Regions from separate parts of the Homo sapiens genome. Here region 2 is linked to region 1. Evidence: fine-mapped expression QTL. Tissue or cell type: macrophages after interferon gamma. Region 1 holds a variant in brackets; the other region holds the start of a gene. All regions are shown on one strand. Distances are from middle to middle.

Region 1 (7,920 bases):
AGTGAGGCAAGATCGTGCCATTGCACTCCAGCCTGGGCAACAGAGCGAGACTTCATCTCAAAAAAAAAAACCTTAGGCTGGACGTGGTGGCTCATGCCTGTAATCCCAGCACTTTGGGAGGCCAAGGCGGGCGGATCACTTGAGGTCAGAAGTTCGAGACCAGCCTGGCCAACATGATGAAACCCTGTCTCTACTAAAAATACAAAAAAAAAATTAGCTGGGCATGGTGGCAGACACCTGTAATCCCAGCTACTCTGGAGGCTGAAGCAGGAGAACTGCCTGAACCCAGGAGGTGGAGGTTGCAGTGAGCTGAGATCACACCACTATACTCCAGCCTGGGCAACAGAGGGAGACTCCACCTCAAAAAAAAAAAAAAGAAAAAAATACATAGTATCTCCTAGACATGATAGAAAAGACACAAGACTAATTCTTATGTTTTTATAAATGCTGTTGTATATAAAACTGTGTTTGCGGTTGGGCACAGTGGCTCACACATGTAATCCCAGCACTTTGGGAGGCTGAGGCGGGTGGATCACCTGAGATCAGGAGTTCGAGACCAGCCTGACCAACATGGTGAAACCCTGTCTCTACTAAAAATACAAAAATTAGCCGGGCGTGATGGTGGGCACCTGTAATCCCAGCTACTGGGGAGCCTGAGGCAGGAGAATTGCTTGAACCCAGGAGGCGAAGGTTGCAGTGAGCTGAGATCACGCCATTGCACACCAGCCTGGGCAACAGGAGCAAAATTCTGTCTCAAAAACAAAAAGTGTTTGCTCTTCTGATTAGAAGCTAATATAGTCATCTGTAATGTTCTTACATGGTTTTTATATTTTATACATTTTTTTTTTCGAGACGGAGTCTTGCTCTGTCACCCAGGCTAGAGTGCACTAGCACAATCTTGGCTCACTGCAACCTCTGCCTCCCAGGTTCAAGCGATTCTCCTGCCTCAGCCTCCCAAGTAGCTGGGATCACAGGCGCCTGCCACCACATCCACACCCAGCTAATTTTTGTATTTTTAGTAGAGATGGGGTTTCACCATGTTGATCATGTTGCTCTCGAACTCCTGACCTTGTGATCCGCCCACCTCGGCCTCCCAAAGTGCTGGGATTACAGGCCTGATCCACCATGCCGGCTATAAATTACTTTTTATGATTAAAAAAGTCAGTGACTGGGCATGGTGGCTCATGCCTGTAATCCCAGCACTTTGGGAGGCTGAGTCAGGAGGATCACTTGAGCCCAGGAGTTCAAGAGCAGCCTGGGCAATGCCATCTCTGTTTAAAAAAAAAAAAAATTTAGTGATTATTGTAAAACTTATATAAAGTAAAACCTGAAAGACTCCTACAATCCAGTGCCCTCCTGTAAATTTCTTCACAATTTACTAATATATTACATATAATATACTAACAATTATTTTAACAAAAATGTAATCATAGTATCATTTGCAACTTCCTTTTTTTCCTCTTTAAAAAAAAATTTTTTTTTCTTTTTGAGACAGTCTTGCTCTGTCACCCAGGCTGAAGTGCAGTGGCACGATCTCAGCTCACTGCAACCTCCGTCTCTTGGGTTCAAGTGATTCTCCTGCCTCAGCCTCCCGAGTAGCTGGGACTAGAGGCATGTGCCATGATGCTGGCCAATTTTTGTATTTTTGGTAGAGACGGGGTTTCATCATGTTGGCCAGGCTGGTCTCGAACTCCTGACCTCAAGTGATCCACCCGCCTCAGCCTCCCAAAGTGCTGGTATTACAGGCGTGAGCCACTGTGCCCGGCCTCCTCTTTAAGACATTAGCACTTGGCTGGGCGCAGTGGCTCACAACTGTAATACTAGCACTTTGGTAGGCCGAGGCATGCAGATCGCTTGAGCCCAGGAGTTCAAGTCCAGCCTAGGCAACAGAGCAGCATGCCATCTTTACAAAAAAAAAAAAAATTAACCGGGCATGGTGATGCATGCCTGTAGTCCCAACTACTTGGGAGGCTGAGGCAGGAGGAACACCTGAGCCTGAGGAGGTTGAGGCTGCCATGCACTGTGGTCATGCCACTGCCCTCCAGCCTGGGTGACAGAGTGAGACCTTGTCTCAAAAAAATATATAAAAAATCAAATATTTGTACTTCTATCTAATAACTATAGTATTTTGAAACCTTTATTGATAAACAGTATGTTTTTTGTGATTGCACATAGTGTTAATATGAACATGCTTATTCATATATCTTTGCCCACTTCTGCAAGCATAGCTATAAGGTAAATTCCTAGAAGTAGAATTGTTAGATCAAAGTTTATAAATATTTCAAATTTTAATTATTTTAAATCGCTATTATCACATTTTCATCCCAGAAAGTGTTCATTTACGTTCTCACCAAGTATATGTGAGAGAACTGCTTAGGTCTATACATTTCTAAAATTTAAGATGCATAATTTTTCAAAGAATTAAGTATGAACCTCTATTAATGAAAGGTTATCTTGTTCCTATAGAAAAAAAAATAGGCCAGGTGTGGTGGCTCATGCCTGTAATCCAACACTTGGGGAAGCAGAGACAGGAGGATTGCTTGAGCCTAGGAGTTTAAAACCAGCTTAGGCAACATAGCAAGATGCTGTCTCTACAAAAAAACAAAAACTAGCTAAGTGTGGTGGCACGTACCTGTAGTCCCAGCTACCCAGAAGACTGACTGAGATGTGAAGATTACTTGAGCCTATGAGTTCAAAGGTGCAGTGAGCTATGATCCCACCATTGCACTCCAGCCTGGATAACAAGGCAAGACTCTCTTTTTTTTTTTTTTTTGAGATGAAGTCTCACTCTGTCACCCAGGCTGGAGTGCAGTGGCACAGTCTCGGCTCACTGAAAGCTCTGCCTCCCGGGTACACGCCATTCTCCTGCCCCAGCCTCCCGAGTAGCTGGGACTACAGGTACCCGCCACCACGCCCGGCTAATTTTTTTGTATTTTTAGTAGAGACGGGTTTTCACCATGTTAGTGAGGATGGTCTTGATCTCCTGACCTTGTGATCTGCCCGCCTCGGCCTCCCAAAGTGTTGGAATTACAGGTGTGAGCTACCTCGCCCGGCTGACCCTATCTCTTAAAAAAAAAAAAAGTCACAAACTGATTTTGCTATAAGAATTCCCATATATACCAGAAAGAGGGGCATGATAGTGGTCTTGTAATCATGTCATATTGAAAACATTATTTGTCAACAAATGTTAGCTCTGTTTGTTGGAGTGGAATTTAACCATTATACCTTGGCAGCAGTATAATACATTCATAAGATACCAACATCACCAAATATCAAATGGGCCAGTGTTGTGCTAGCGAGTCGCAGTGGCTCATGCTTGTATCTCAACACATTGGGAGTCTGAAGTGGGAGGATCACTTGAAGCCATGCATTTGACACTAGCCTTGGCAACAAAGTGAGACCCTGTCTCCACAAAAAAAATTTAAAAATTAAAAAAATATTGGCTGGGCGCGGTGGCTCACACCTGTAATCCCAGCACTTTGGGAGGCTGAGGCAGGTGGATCACCTGAGGTTAGGAGTTTGAGACTAGCCTGGCCAACGTGGCAAAACCTGTCTCTACTAAAAATATAAAAATTAGCTGGGCATGGTGGTGCACACTTGTAATCCCAGCTACTCAAGAGGCTGAGGCAGAGAATCGCCTGAACCTGGGAGCCAGAGGTTGTAGTGAGCTGAGATCGCACCACTGCACTTCAACCTGGGTGACAGAGCAAGACTCTGTCTCAAAAAAAAAAAAAAAGAACTGGGCACGGTGGTGCATGCCTGTAATCCTAGCTAATCAGGAGGCTGAGACTGGAGGAGCACTTGAGCTGGGGAGTTCAAGGGTGCAGTGAGCTATAATTGTGCCACTGCACTCCAGCCTGGCACCAGAGCCAGACCCCATTTCTTTAAAAAATTTTTTTCTTT[T/C]TTTTTTTTTAAAAGGCTAGCCGTTGTCTGAATATTTTGTTAGCGAGTATGTTAAAGGAAGGACTCTTTAAATTTCTGAGTACTATATTACCCAGTTAGAGCTCTGGGGTTAATTTTCATTAATGCGAGTTAATGCATAGCAAAACAACTTTTGTTACAGTGTGTATTTTTTAAACTAGTAATCTTATTGTCATGGAAGCAGCTTTCACTGATACAACTACTGTTACGTTGAATAGTTAATATCAGTCATTGCTAACAGGAATAATAGATTTTTAAATGATTTAGTTGTTCTAGCTGCATAATTTCTTTGTTAATTTGTAATGCTTCAGAATTGTTTTCATCCCTTGCATTTGTTTTGCACAGAAACACTTTGTGCTACTCTGTGGGGCTTTGGAAAAGCATGTTAAATGTGATATTAGGGAAGATGCAAGACTTTTTTACAGAACTAAGGTAAGTGTGTTCTTTCTTTTTTTCTTTTTTTTTTTCTTAATCTTGGTTACGTTAATATTTAAGGATAGAAGCATACAGGCCTATATTCAGAAAAAGAACATATAAGGCTAGGCATGGTGGCTCATGCCTGTAATCCCAATACTTTGGGAGGCTGAGACAGGAGGATTGCTTGAAGCCAGGAGTTCAAGACCAGCCTGGGCAACATAGCAAGACTCCATCTCTACAAAAATTTTTGAAAAATAGCCAGGCATGGTGTCATGCACCTGTAGTTCTGGCTACTTGGGAGGCTGAGGCAGGAGGATCACTGGAGCCTAGGAGTTTGAGGTTGCAGTGAGCTATGAACACACATGGCACTCCAGCCTGGGAGATAGAGTAGGACTCTGTCTCGAAAACAAAAAGAAACATGTAAGATTAGAAATAGGACTTTCTCTTTTAATAACAGAAATCAGCTCCTGCTAAATTAGTGTAGCTAAATTAAAAGTGAAAGGAAAAAAAATCTCAAAGCAAATACACTTTTCACTTTACTTTCTGTTCTGAAACTCCTGACACCCAAGGAGAAAAATACTTCTAGTACTAATGATACATATTTTTCCCCATTACACAAATTAAAACCTTCATGCTTAAGTTACCATCAAGGATTGAAGCATTATTTAAATAAATACGTAAGTTATGAAACAGTGGCTTTGAAATTTTATGATGGTTGAAAACTTGTTTTATTCATAGAGTACAAATAGATTAGCTGTTATTCTTTGAATGTTTCATTGAAGAATATGTTAAAGGAAGGAGTCTTCAATTTTTTTTTTTTTTTTTTTTTTTTTTTTTTTTTTTTTGAGATGGAGTTTCACTCTTGTTGCCTAGGCTGGAGTGCAGTGGCACAAATTCGACTCACTGCAACCCCCGCCTTCCAGGTTCAAGCGATTCTCCTGCCTCACCCTCCCAAGTAACTGGGATTACAGGCGCCCGCTACCATGCCCGGCAAATTTTTTTTTTTTTTTGTATTTTTAGTAGAGACGGGGTTTCACTGTGTTGTCCAGGCTAGTCTCGAACTCCTGACCTCGTGATCTGCCTGCCTCGGCATCCCAAAGAGCTGGGATTAGAGGTGTGAGCCACCACACCCAGCCAGGAGTCTTCAAATCTTTGGGTCGTACAACACCTAGTCTGAGCTCTAGGGTGGAAATGATTTCAGCACTAAGCTTGCTAAGCTTTTTTTCTTAAAGGTTTTATATACTCAAAGACAGTAGAAAAGCCAAATATATGAGTATGGAGTAGGAAAATAATGTTAGTATTAATAGAATGATTTGACAGTTTTTCCTGAAACATAAAATCAGACACTTTTAAAATACTTTTTTCTAAATACAAAAATGAGCCAGGTGTGGTGGTGCGTGCCTGTAGTCTCAGCTACTCAGGAGGCTGAGGAAGGAGAATCCCTTGAACCCAGGAGGCAGAGCTTGCAGTGAGCTGAGATCTCGACACTGCACTCCAGCCTGGGCGACAGAGCAAGACTCTGTCTCAAAAAATAATAATAATAAATAAAACAAAATAAAATAAACATACTTTTTTCTAAAGATTTTTTTATTCCAAGATTATCTTTTAGCTTTGATAATGTAATACAATGCTGATTCTTTTTGCCTCTTGTCTTTGGATAGTCATTGAATGTGAAGCCTCAGCTTTGTAACTTAATATCTTACATTAATTAGCTGCAAAGGTTAGTCATTTGAACAATGCCCATTCAGATTTAACATATGTATTTATTTTAGTAAATTTAAGTTAAATACAAAAATAAGCAACTAATGAAGTTATCAGATTTCTGATTTTCAAATACATGTAGGGGATAGCTCTTTCCCCAAGAGTAGAACTCTAGTTTCAGAAGCACATTCTTTTGAGCATTCATTGACCAGAATTGCTGGCCTGTAGAACTTGGTAGTGGCTACTACTGACAGCCATGCTAAAAGGGGACCACCCAAGTTTTATGTTTCTTAAAGACAAGGGCTTGGCACAGATTGTTGCCAGTGCTTCTCTTACTTAAAGTGGAAAGCGACACAGTGGTCTGTGGAAATTGCTTCAAGGGATGGTCCTGCTGAAATAGATGAGTTGCCTGCCTCTCCAAAAGCCTCTATTATAGAAAAGTTGGTGATTGTTTTGGAGAAATTTGAACTGTAGATGAAGAAAAAAGCATAGATTGTAGTTTACTTTATAAATTTAAAGCTGCTATAAAATTCCTGACTTGTTGAAAACATGTTTCTCAAGCAGTTATGTTCAATAGCTAATTGAGAATCTCTAGAGTGATAGAGTTTGGGTTTTGTGTTACAGTTTCAGTTGTGCACAGACACTTGCTAAACCTCCAAATGTAGGAAAATACGAGGTATTTAAAGGGGATTCGTAGTACTTGGGCACAAGCATGGAGAGGAGTAACAGTGAATTTTGGATCTTCTAATAATGTGGAGAGGGACAAATAAACGTTTTTTTTATGGCTTTGATCCTTTCAAAGGGAAGCTGGGAAGGGAAGGCACAGAACAGCCAAAGCCTTGGGCCCTGTTGACACAGACCACCCTTCAGCTTCTCTATCTGGTTGTTCAAAAGCCAGCGAGTTAAAGTTAAGTTCCTTTGAAGGCAGAGAATGTGTTTTTGGGGATGATCTTCAATAACAGGAAAATTAAATCATAAGCATTCAATAGTTTAGATTATGATGATAAAGGGAGTCTTATTAATTTCTATGATTTGAAATCTCCTTCAAAAGATGAGTAGTTTATTTTCTCTTTGTTGACAGAAATCAAATTGAGTTGTTGAGTGTGGGCCTGTTGCAGCTGTCAGATATTTTGTGTAGTGTTAAGCTGATTGTAGGTGAGAATGTTTTAATCTGATCCCTTTTCCTGTTTTTGATATTTTTAAGGTGAAAGACTTGGTCGCCAGGATACATGGAAAATGGCAGGAAATAATCCAGAACTGTCGGCCTACTCAGGTGTCATTTTGTTATACAATTTCATGTATTCTTAATAGTTTTGCTGAATGGCACTCTTCATACTGTTTGAAATAAAATAGGGTATAACAGTGCACTTGCTTCTAGTTATCTTAAGATAAACTGAAAACGCCAGTATAATACATGGTTTGTAATTTTTTTAGTTTTCGTTTGCTTTATATTCATTAATTTATTTCCAGAAGTGGTTGAGCCCATTTAAAAATATTGCATTGCATCAAATGGAGGTTATTCAATTAAGAGCATTTTTAAGACAGATCTATTGAGATAGAATTCACATACCATAGATTTTACCCACTTAACGTGTACAGTGGTTTTTATTACATTGACAGAGTGAATAACATCACCATAGTCTAATTTTAGAACATTTTCATCACCCCAAAAAGAAATCCCATACCCATTAGCAGTCATTCATTCCCCTTTCCTCTACTACCTTGGTTCCCCTCCTGACTCCTCCCAAATCCTAGGCAAACACTAATCTACTTTCTGTCCCTATACATTTCCCTATTCTGGACATCGGTAAATGAGATATACTATGTAATCTTTTGTAATTGGCTGTTTTCAGTTAATATAATAATAAGTGAATCCATGTT
Region 2 (6,173 bases), 630 kb before region 1:
ACAAATGTGGGTGGCTCAAAAAATAAGACAACATTTCATCAACATTAATGTTATGAGACTCTTTGACTCCACTTTCAAAAGATTTATGCACCCTGACAAGAACAGAGTATTGCGGAGCCTAGAACACCTACTAATGAGGGCATCTTAGTTGTACGATTCAACCTACAGCTTTAATCAAAACACAACCCCACACACAACTATATTAAACTAGGCAAACATCACTTGTGCAACTTTTGAAAGAAGTAATAAACCAAATACAAAGTTGCTGTCATTACCTACAAGTCTAATAGCATCTGTTTGGTCCAATTTTATTATTATTTACGGTTCTTTGACTCTATCTTCCCACAGTCGCCCTCCTATCTTTTCACTTGCTTCTCTCAACTTAGAGATCAAAATTTCTCAGTTTGTGTCTATAGCTAGAGCCTCAATAAGCTTCCTCCAATGGCATGTGACATGGTGGTCTCTCACATGGGACCATCACCATACCATGTGTTTCCCTCCCTCTCTTAACAGGGATCTGAGATCTAAGGTCGCCTGGATCTTTTACTTCCTCTCTTTTTTCTTCCATCTTTTTCTCTGCCTCTAAAGAAACATGCATCGGATATAGTATAATAACTACGTGAAGCCCACCAAACTATCTTTCCAAACAGAAGGGAGTGGTTTTCCACTCTTTTTTTTTTTTGGAGACAGAGAGACAGAGTCTTGCTCTGTCCCCCAGGCTGGAGTGTAGTGGCACGATCTTGGCTCACTGCAACCTCTGCTCCTGGGTTTAAGCGATTCTCCTGCCTCAGCCTCCTGAGTAGCTGGGATTACAGGCACCTGCCACCCAGCTAATTTTTGTATTTTTAGTAGAGACAGGGTTTCGCCATGTTGGCCAAGCTGGTCTCAAAACTCCTGACCTCAGGTGATGTGCCCACTTCGGCCTCCCAAAGTGCTGGGATTACAGGCGTGAGCCACCGTGCCAGCCCACTCTCTACAGAAGGGTAAAATATTTTCACCTTTCACCTTTTCAGCCAATAGAAAACAATGGCTGCCAAAAACTGGTTTCCCCTTGTAATTCTTGACCAAACTGCCTTCCTCTACTGACAAATTCCTTTTAAACAAAATATCTTAAGCTGCAAAGGTAAATAGATGGGATTGGAATATTGTTATCTAAAGTTCCCGGATATAGCCTGCTTACACAGATAGATGCTCGCTCCACAGATGTTGCCCACAGGAATGTTTATACATATAGTGCACACATAGATGTTTCTCACAGACAGATGTACACAAACACAGATGCTACTCACGTAGACAGATGTCCACCAGGAACACAATATATACCAACAGCTCCCTCAGGGTGGTCTTGATATAAAGTTCCCGGTTCTCAGCTGTGTTCTCAGTCAGGGTTGTTCCCCAAAGTCCTAAGGGGCATGGGAGAGATGCCTGGGATGCTCAGTGGCAGTGTTCCTCCCAGTCATCCCCACCCATCTGTCTCTGGACTTTAGCCCCTTTCCACCCCTGCCCTTCCTTGCCCATCACCTTCATCCTTGGCTGAATCTGGCTACTGTACCCACACCCATGCTTGCTCTTCCCATCAGCTCCCTGAGGTCGACAGGGGTGAAGGCCCTGGCTTGTAGAGAATGAAGGCATGGAAAGGAGGCACCTGTTCCAGGTGGGGTAGTCTAGGGCATCATCACATCCATGTCCTCCCTCAAACCAGCTCCCACATACCTCTCTGGATCCCCAGGTGATGACCATGCCAGGCTCCCACAACCGGTAGACCGCTCAGCTGGCCTCTGTGTTCTGGGTCATGCAGCACTACCATGGGCAATTCATACACCCCAAAGTGACACCGAAAGGTCACCTCTTCTTCAGATCACATTCCACCCCCACCCCCTGCCCAAAAGCTTTTGGTGACTCCTCCTGATTCTAATATCCCAGGAGAACTGTCCCCCTATCTGGTACCTCTGATGCCTTGACAGATATGGAGGCAGCAGCTGGACACCTGGGTCCTGTATGCCGTCTCCTGGGGTTCATCTTCAGGCTTCTTGGGTTGGGGCTGGAGAGGCCCCGTGCTGGAGATGGTGCAGACTCTCAGCGTCCCGTGTGGGGAAGGGGGACCACTGTAGGCGGGGTTGTCCCAGGCTCCACTCCCCAGCTTTTGCAGCTCCTGCCCCTCAGGACTTCCCACAGCATTCATGGGGAATGAGGTGGGGGGGCCCGGTACCCCAGGTGCCCACTCTCAGCTAGAGGAAGAGGGAGCAGAGGCACAGCCCAGCCTAGCCAGCAGAGAGCAAATGGAAAGGCGTCTGAGAGCAGCTGTTTCCACACAGCCTGGGCTCCTGCCTTTTGTAGGGGGATGTCTGTGCCTGCTGGGGAGGGAGCGGATGAGAGGACAGGGTGGGGAAGGACCATCAATCCTGTCAGGAGCTCTCTCTCCCTCTTGCTGCAAGCCCCAGGGGACCAGCCGAAAGGGGAGGTGAGGGAACTGGAAGGTGGGGGTTTGAAGAGGGGAGAGGGGAGAATAGGAGGAGGATGTGGAGCTGGGAGTGGAAGGAGAAACGGGAGGAAAAGGCGATGCTGGGGATGAAGGGGGCTGCTCGCAGATGTGCCTGGTGGAGAGATGGCCCAGAGGTCGGACAGAAGAGACGATCAAAGAGCAATGGGAGGAGCTGAGACAGGAGGGGAGCCGGGGGCCTGTGCTGCGGGTCTGAGCTCATTTCCACTAAAAGCTCCTAAAAGGGCCGACATGGATTGGGGTGGGGACCAAGGCTGGGAGGAAAGCTGAAGAGCGCTGTCCCCCTCCCAGGCTCTGCCCACCTCCCAGGTTCAGTCAATGGGTCTGAGGCTCCTGTCCTGTCTCACCTTCAGCTGTCCCCTGGTGGAGCAGAGATGGGCAGCTCCCTTCCCTCACTTCACCCTCTCAGCCGTGGGGAAAGGACAGTGGCAGGAGGAACCCCAGTCTCACATACTTCAGGGCACTGAGGGGGCAGGGGAGAGGACCACAGAGTCCTAGGTTGTCTATATTCCTTGTTCTGAAGCTTGCCTTTCCATGGCTTACAGGTGAGATACACCAAGAGAGGGGGTTCCTTAAGGGTGTGGGGCTCAGTATGGGAAAAAGGCTAAGACCTGGTTGGGAGGCTGGATCGGAGAACAAAGGACAAGGACAGTATGATGTGGGACTAAAGGGGAGTGGATATCTGGACCCAGCTGAGCTGGGAACCTTTTCCCATGGCTCTGCTTAGTCCTGGGCCTAGAATCGTAAACTTGAGCACAAAGTGGAACTATCCATGATATCAGGATTAATCTGCTTTCTTTATAACTGCAGGTCTCTGAATTAAAACTGTGTCATGGGCCCCCAAGCACATCCCTGCCTATGCCCTGCTCCAGCTTCTGATCACCTGCTCCAGCTCCCCTATAGGCATGCATGATGCCCCAGAATGGGGCTGATCCCACAGGTTGTGGTGGTCACCCTGCAGTTTCTCCTCCTTGAGGCTAGAGCAGAGACTTTCCTCTCCTAACTCCTGGCTCCCCACCCAGGGCTACTCACTGGCCTGAAGCCCACCTTCACATTCAGCAAAACATCAGCCTTGTCAAAATAATCAGTCTTGAGTGTCCCTATAAAGAGATCTTGGCTGGGTGTGGTTGCCCACACCTGTAATTCCAGCACTTTGGGAGGCCAGGGCAGGAGGATCACTTGAGCTCAGGAGTTCAAGACCAGCCCGGGCAACATGGTGAAACACCGCCTCTACAAAACAACAACAAAACAACAAAAATTAGCCAGGCATGGGGTGCGTGCATGTAGTCCCAGCTGCTACTCAGGTGGCTGGGGTGGGAGAACCACTTGAGCTGGGGAGGCTGAGGCGTTGAGGCTGCAGTCAGCTGAAATCACACCACTGCACTCCAGCCTGAGCAACAGAGCAAGACCCTGTCTCAAGAAAAAAGAAAGAAAGAAAGATAACAAGTGTTGGCAAGGCTGTGGAGAAAAGGGGCCCCTTGTATGCTTGGCTGTATTGTAAATTAGTACGGACATCTTGGAAAACAGTATGGAGGTTCCTCAAAAAACTAAAAATAGAATTACCATATGTTCCAAGAATCTCAAAGGAATTGAAATCAGTGTGTTGAATAGATGTCTCCTCTCCCATGTTCATTGCAGGATTATTAATAATAGCCAAGATATGGAAACAATCTAAGTATCCATCAACTGACGAAAGGATTTAAAAGATGTGGTATATATGCACAATATAATATATTCAGCCTTGAAAAAAAAAACACAGAAAATTCTGTCATTTACGACAACATAGATAAACCTAGAGAACATTATGTTAAGTGAAATAAGCCAGGCATAATGAGACAGATGCCCTATGCTCTCACTTATATGTGGAAACTAAAAAAATTGAACTCGTAGAAGTAGAGAGTAGAATGGTGGTTACCAGAGGCTGGGGGTGAGGGGTGTGTGAGAGGGGAAGAGAGTGGTCGATGGATAAAAGCTTTCAATCAGGCAAGAGAAATATGTTCTGTTGTTCTGTTGCACAGTGTGGTGACTACAGTTGATAATGAGGTACTGTGTACTTCAAAATAGCTAACAGAGAGGATTTAAAAAGTTCTTACTACAAAGAAATGATAAATATTTGAAGTAATGAATATGCTAATTCACCTGATTTGATCACTCCACAATGTATACATGTATCAAAATGTCACATTGTACCTCATAAGTATATAGAATTATTATTTATCAATTAAAAATAAAATAAAACTTTAAAAAATGGAGCAAATGGGCCAGGCACAGTGGCTAACATCAGCACTTTGGGAGGCCGAGCTTGAGACTAGGAGTTCAAGACCAGCCTGGGCAACAAAGTGAGACCCTGTCTCTACAAAAAAATCAAAAAATTAGCTGGGCATGGTAATGCATGTCTGTGATCCCAAATACACAGGAGGCTGAGGCAGGAGGATTGCTTGAGCCCGGGAGGTCAGGGCTGCAGTGAGCCGTGTTCATGCCATTGCACTCCAGCCTTGGTGACAGAGAAAGAGCTTGTTTCAAAAAAAAAAAAAAAAAAAAGCAGCAGCAGCAAATGGAGGCATGAATAATGTGAGGTAGCCTATTTTAATGGTATAGACACTAAACATTATGAAGTTTAGGGGAAAAGGAAGCTTCCTCTGGAGGAAATGAAACAGAAGCTAGATCTTGATGGATGGGCGAGGTTTGGGAAGGAAGAGCCCCATCAGGTTTGGATGGGAAGGTTTGGAAAAGAAGAGGTTCCTTCTAAGCATAGGAATGATAGGTGGGGTCTTGGGGCTCTGAAGATGTCTGTGATGCCCCTAGGGTTGTAGAAGACTGGCCCTTAGTGCAGTTGGGAGAAAACAGAGGAGGGGGAAGGCCTGAGGTTGCATAACGAGGGTGAGGACCTCTGGTGGTCCCTATTGCCGCCGAGAACTGTGGTGTGCGTGAATCCCTTCAGAGACCATGGAAACTACCAGCTATTCAGAGTGGTTGAAGAACAAAAGGAGGTGGCTTCTGACCAAGTCAGTGGGAAGGAAATGACAAAATAAGAAGAAAAGGAAGGGTTCTTTTTCATTTGGGGCACTCATCCATGCTAATTTTTCATCCATAAAGAAATGAGTAGTCAATCTTTTCATGCTTCCTTTACCAAAAGGTGATTGAATTTATTTTATTAATTCATAGCCTATGTTTAAGGGAAATATATTATTTTGAGATTTTTATTTGTAGTTTAAATGTTTCTTGGGGGGTTGGAGATTTAAGGTAGTCCCAGACTTCTTTTAGATTTTTCCTCCTTATTATAGTTTGTATAAATATTGATCCAACCTAGATATAAGCTATGGGTAGGAGGAATCTTTTTTTTTTTTAACTATAGAACACAGCATTCCAGAAAAACCTCATTTCCATTGGTGAATGGCTATTGGCATACACAAACCTGGCATGTGGTTGAGGAGAAGGGATGCAGCTGACGTGAGAAAATCTTGAGAAGAGAGCCATAATCCCGCTTCCAATTCACTTGAGGTTTTGATGTATGAGGAAAGATGAAAAGAACTGTATGTGGGTAGGCCTGGCTGAAGAGCTAAGGAGTGCAGGTGCATGTGTGTGGGATGGGGTCCTGACAGCCATGTGCAGATGCATGTGTGTGGGATGGGGTCCTGACAGCCATGTGCAGATAGTTGAAGGCATAAGCCCC

What was found. PIP is the estimated chance that this variant, and not a neighbour inherited with it, causes the effect.
Region 2: it holds the start of PKD2L1, and the variant in region 1 is fine-mapped to the expression of PKD2L1 in macrophages after interferon gamma (Alasoo 2018, PIP 0.95).

What each region holds. Positions count from the first base shown.
Region 1 is chr10:100,952,185-100,960,104 of GRCh38, forward strand. It overlaps SLF2 (SMC5/6 complex localization factor 2), which reads left to right. Exons shown (of 20, transcript NM_018121.4): 18 at 4,267-4,353; 19 at 7,244-7,312. Among named protein-coding and RNA genes, the nearest start is that of SEMA4G, 13 kb to the right of the region's middle. The variant T/C (reference allele first, on the strand shown) is at 3,904.
Region 2 is chr10:100,327,922-100,334,094 of GRCh38, forward strand. It overlaps PKD2L1 (polycystin 2 like 1, transient receptor potential cation channel), which reads right to left and starts at 2,307. Exons shown (of 16, transcript NM_016112.3): 1 at 1,948-2,307; 2 at 1,290-1,403. The coding sequence starts at 2,182.